Regions from separate parts of the Homo sapiens genome. Here region 1 is linked to region 2. Evidence: fine-mapped expression QTL. Tissue or cell type: prefrontal cortex. Region 2 holds a variant in brackets; the other region holds the start of a gene. All regions are shown on one strand. Distances are from middle to middle.

Evidence for each region. PIP is the estimated chance that this variant, and not a neighbour inherited with it, causes the effect.
Region 1: BMS1 starts here. The variant in region 2 is fine-mapped to the expression of BMS1 in prefrontal cortex (GTEx, PIP 0.94).

The regions. Positions count from the first base shown.
Region 1 is chr10:42,781,115-42,783,869 of GRCh38, forward strand. BMS1 (BMS1 ribosome biogenesis factor) reads left to right here and starts at 1,681. Exons shown (of 23, transcript NM_014753.4): 1 at 1,681-1,716. RefSeq lists an enhancer at 1,512-1,861.
Region 2 is chr10:42,752,108-42,754,862 of GRCh38, forward strand. It overlaps LOC283028 (a long non-coding RNA gene), which reads right to left. Exons shown (of 1, transcript NR_136644.1): 1 at 1-2,755. Among named protein-coding and RNA genes, the nearest start is that of BMS1, 29 kb to the right of the region's middle. The variant G/T (reference allele first, on the strand shown) is at 1,622.

The DNA.
Region 1 (2,755 bases), 29 kb after region 2:
AGGTGTGCAAGGGATCAATGAGAATGGTTGGCCATTGAGTTTAAGCTGGCTCACTAGAGAGGGTCATAAAGGAAGAAACAGTGAACAAGTAGTAAGATCTTGATTGGAGGTGCTGGTAAGGTTGCAGGAGTTTTGTTTCAGGGCAGTATAGGGAGTGACCTGGACAGATAGGAGGATAGATAGACCTGGTCAGAGTGGGATACTGTGGGGGTTGCAGTCCTTGGACCTGACAAGGTCTAAGGTCTGATCATGGAGGGAGGGGGAAGCTGAGGTAGGGCAGAGGACAGGAGTGGGCTTCATGAGACCAAAAGGATGTTGGAAGGATTATCTACCTGGATACTGAAATCTTCAAGAAGTAAGAGGTGTAGTGTGAAGAAGTTACAACACTCTAAGCTCTTCAGGGATAAGGGAAGCATGTGCCACGTGGGTAGCCTCCCAAGTCCAGCACCCAGTATCTAGAATATGCAGAGTGAATACCTGGGGGCTGCTGAGGGCAAGAACAAGGTGCCTGTGAGAAGACCTGACGCCTGGGGTTCTCGTGACAGGAGTGGGCCTAGTTTTTGGTGTAGAATTGAGCCTTGAATGCACCAGCGGGATCATATTGAAAAGAAACCCTCCAAGACTAAAGGAAGATGCATCCTCTGACAATGTACGCTCTGTAGGCTCCCAAGTAGCTGGGCTGGGGATTAGATGGACTCCAAGGCATTTCCTCAGGTGGCAATGGGCGGATCCCTGGGAAGGTAAAGCTGTGCAGTAAGAAAACGGCAAGATGCTACGTTCACTCAGGTAAAGCCCCTTTCCCGGGTTTAGGGAGGGCGAGGCAGTTTAGGCTGGGTCAGTTTGTCCCTGCCCTCACGGTTTGTTGGTCCTGGCAAAAGAGGGCCTTATGTTATTTATTTTTCTTAGAGACAGTGTCTTGCTCTGTTGCCCAGGCTGAAGTCCAGTGGCTCATCTCAGTTCACTGCAGACTCCGCCTCCTGGGATCAAGCGATCCTCCCACCTCAGCCTCCAGAGTAGCTGGGACCACAAGCACCACAGGCGCCCGGCACGATGCCGGCTAATTTTTTTTTTTTTTTTTTTTAAGAGAGAGAGGTAGGCTCCCTATGTTGCCCAGGCTTGTCTTGAATTCCTGGGCTCAAGCAATCCTCCCTCCTCGGCTTCCCAAAGTGTAGGGATTACAGGCGTGAGCCACTGCGCCCTGCCAAAAGAGGGCTTTAGGGCACCCCAGAACGCGAGATCCCCCTCATCTGTAATCTTTAAAGAGGAGGAAGTGTACTCCAAATCAAGCGATAGTCCATTCGTCCTTGGCACGGTGACTGCCGGGAGGCCAGGACCAAATGTGTCTCCTTCCGGCTTTTGCACCACACTAACTAACCGGCGCCAGGCCGCAGAGCCGCCCTGGCCTTCGGCGAGAACTCAGGCGAGCGCGGCGCACGCTGCTCCGGAGTCCCACCGCGGAAGTTGAGGCCGCGGATTCCGAGGGCGGGGTGGAGAGGAATCTGGAAGGACCTGGACCCGGTGGAACGCACTGCGCGGACGGCGCCTGCGTCCGCACTCAGCTGTTCAGCCCTCTTTCTTCAGGCTCTCCCCTGAAAGCCGTCCCCATGCCGGTCTCTTTTTTCTGCCTTCTTGTTTCCCTCCGGCGAGTCAGCGCGACTGTGAATTTCCGTTTCCGGCGGTGTCCATGCTGACCTGAGGAGTCGCGGCTGCGAGCAGGTTCGGTGCTGCGGGTTGGGGTAGGCGGCGGTGGGGTCCCTGGTTCTGGGGCACTGGGAAGATCGCGAGTCGTGCGTGTGGGAAGGTCCTCCCCCGGTCCTCCGGGTCATCTTTGCTCCCGAGGAGCGGCATATTTCTCATCTGGCGGAGGTGTCCTGGGGTAGTTGGGTGAGTGACGTGATGAATCCCTGCAGAGAGCCCAGACGGGGAGGGAAGGTGGCTGGGCGACGTCGTTTCCTGGCGACGTGGTCCCGGTAGGAGACTTAGACCTGAGCTGGATCTGTTGACCCCAAATTGTGCTTTTCCCACCAAGAAGAAAGACAGGGAGAGAAACATTAGTACAAGTGCTGAACTAAAATATAGCAGAGAAGAAACATAATCTCTGAAATCACACAGCTATTCGGTTTCAAAGCGTTCCTAGCGCCCAGCTCTCCTAACTCCTGGCCAGTGTTCTTGACATTATGGTAATACATAAAGACTTTGTTTCCGCTGGTGTGTGTCTGTGGGAAGCCTCTGACTCACCTCCGTGCTCCAGTAGCACCCTGTGCAGCCTTCCAATGTCGCCCTTATTGCGTGGCGCGGAAGATAATAGTTTGGATTTCCTCTGCAAGTCAGATAATAGCTGTATCCACTTACTGGCACAGTGCCTAGCACATCGTAGACAGACACAAATATTTATTCAACGGAATGAATACAGTACCTTAATTGAATGAAATGGCATCCTGCTCCGCTTTTTTTTTTTAATCAAGCTGTCAGATTTTATGCAGCCCGATTTCCTAAAATAACTCACTAATTCAGTGATTGCCAATTTATTAGCCACAGATTCCCAGGTAACTCAGAAATCACTGGAAGGGTCTCTGTAAGTTCATGGGGTCTCCAGGTGTCATCTAGAACCAGTCCTATCTCACACGTACAGCTATTTCTATTTTTCAAATGTATGTAGATAAGTTGTAATTTAGGAGTTTTACAGAGTCAACAGGTACTAAAAGTAATACTGCGATCATATTGGAGGTTCATAAAAACGTTTCACATTTTTTTA
Region 2 (2,755 bases):
AAACGCCTCCCCTGCTTCATGCTTTCTAGTCTTGAGGACTTGGCTTCAGCGTGCTTCTGAATTGCCGCTCCCTCTGGTTGACAATTCTTTTTTTTTTTTTTTTTTTTTTAAGACGCGGTCTCACTCTTGTTGCCCAGGCTGGAGTGCGGTGGCGCGATCTCGGCTCACTACAACCTCCGCCTCCCGGATTCAAGCAATTCTGCTGCCTCAGACTCCTGAGTAGCTGGGATTACAGGCGCCCGCCACCACGCCCGGCTAATTTTTGTAGTTTTAGTAGAGACGGGGTTTCACCATGTTTAGGCAGGTTGGTGTCGACCTCCTGACCTCAAGCGATCTGCCCGCCTCAGCCACCCAAAGTGCTGGTATTACAGGCATGAGGTCCCGCGCCCGGCCGACAATTTACACTGTTCTCCAGTTGGGGCGGAGCGGGAGACACTATGGAGCCCACCTCTGCAAGAGGCAAGGCTTGGCGAAAGGCAGAGACCCCAACCATGGGAAGGTGCACTTTGGGCACCGAACTTTAGGGAAAGCGCTCTGGGTCAGGCGTCTCCTCCAGAGTGGTCAGTTTAGAGTTAAAAAGGCCGCCTTCAAAATAGTTTTAAAATCTATACATTTACCCAGACATACACATTTTTCGAGACAGGGTCTTGCTCTGTCTCCCAGGCTGGAGCGCAGTGGTGCGGTCGCAAGCCATCTTCCTGCTTCAGCCTCCCGAGGAGCTGGGACCACAGGCCCGCGCCACCACGCCGGGCTAATTTCATTTCGTTTCGTTTGTTTTATTTTCGTTTGTTTGTTTTGTAGGGATGGAGTCTGACTGTGTTGCCCAGGCTAGTCTTGAACCTCTGGGCTCAAGGGATCCTCCCTCCTCGGCCTCGCCAGGTGCTGGGGATTCAGGCTTGAGCCTCCACTCCCGGCCCTATTAATTATTCTTAATTAAAACATTTCAAGGACGCAGTGTTTGGGGCCAGCGCGGCGTTTGCAGTGGCTGCTCCAGCCTCGAGGCCGCAGGTCACCGCGCGGGCCCCGTGCCTACTGGCCCGGCAGTCCTGCGGGTCAGCTCAGGGGAGTGCTCTGGAGAGCCCTGAGCCCACCTCCTGCGCCCCGCCCAACCTCGGGTCCCCAGGCCCAGCCTCTGACACGCCGCTCCCAGCGCGGCCACGCCACAGCTCCGGGCTGCGCTCCCCCAGGCAAAGGCGCCGCCGGCGCGTCCAGCGCGGCCTCCTCCTCCAGGCGGCGCTTGTGAGTCAATGGAAAAGTCCTTGGCGAACTGAGCAGCCGCCTAGTATATCTCTGAAGCCTCCTGCGGAGACTTCACGGCTTGTCCCAGGAGCTTCTACAACAGCCTGGCATTGAGAGTAGAGTTGTAATATTTTCCGCCAGTTTTTCCCAGCCCGGCCCCGAAGCGTCTGATCTTAAAGTCCACGTATCAGACTCCGGGGGGCGTCCCTGCAAGAGCGCCAGGTCCCCGACACCCACCAGGGAATGAATCTGCGCCCAGGTCCCCGACACCCGCCAGGGAATGAATCTCCGTCCCAGGAGAAGGGCGTGGCGAGGGGAGAAGCAACAACCACAGGACCCGTGACAGTGGCCAAGCCTTAGAGGCCCCGCATGCCTGCCAGGC[G/T]CCCGAGCCCACGCAGTCCAGGTTTCCCCATCCGGGCGGGAACCAGCTGTTTCCCCTGCACGGGCGAGGGCGCTGGGGTCACCTCCGCCGACGCCAGGCGTGAGCTCCAGAACCCGCTCCCAACCGCCCGGTCCCGTGAGCGCGGGGAGCCTGGCTCTCGCCTGACAATAAAGAAATCATCACGGACAGAAGGAAAGAGGAGCGAGGCTGGGAAGGGAGCGGCTTTAATCCGGGGTCCGCCCCCTTCAATTCTCCAGCGCAGCGGCCCCGAAAGTGGGGTGGGGACGGGGATTGAGGCTGAGCTCGCTTCTTCCTTGTTTTCCGGGTCTCGCGCCTCTGAAGCGAACTGGGCCTGGAGGGGTGCTGGGGATCGAGGGAGCGGCGTTGGTGGGTGACCGAGGGAAAGGTGGGGCCAGCCCCTGGGCACCGGTCGGAGGAGGATTACGAGGCGGAGCCGCTGCCTGCCCGCGCCTCACCCGCTTGGTCCACCCAATAGCTCCGCTGTAGACTCGCGGCGGCAGGAGCGGCGGGCCAGATGGTGATTACAACCCGGGGCGCTATCCCTTTGGAACCTGACCCCCAACTCCGCTCAGTAACCGGATTTCCGGAAGCCGCGACCTCGAAGCCCCCAGCGTTTCTCCACCGACGGCGGGGCCGGGGCTCCTGGAAGCCTCGGAGCCGCAGCTCCAGCCTGCAGCGCACGCCTTGGCCCCCAGGGAGCAGAGAGGCAGAGTACCCCCCTGCATCCGGAGCATAGCAAGCATGCCCCAGGCTGAGGACCTGCGACTTGGTGGGACTTCGGTGCCCGCCCCTCCGCCACTACAGGGAGCAGAGGCGGCTCTGGAAGTCGGTTTAGTGCGGAGACCGCGACCGGAGGAGCGCAGAACGCTCCTCCCAGCGTCCTGGGCTCCGCAGGCACAATTTTTAAACCAGAGGCGAAATCCGAGTCCCGCCGCCCTCCGGGGAGGGAGCGTGGCCGCCTAGCCGAGCCCCTTCTCTGGCTCCGCCCGCTTTTGCGCCGCGAGGCCGCCTGGTGAGTTCCAGGGCCCTGTGGTCCCCCAGCCGCCGGCGCTCTCGGGTGTCTTTTGGCCGCGGCAGGAACGGAGCTGGGCGCTCAGACGGCGCCGGGGTCGT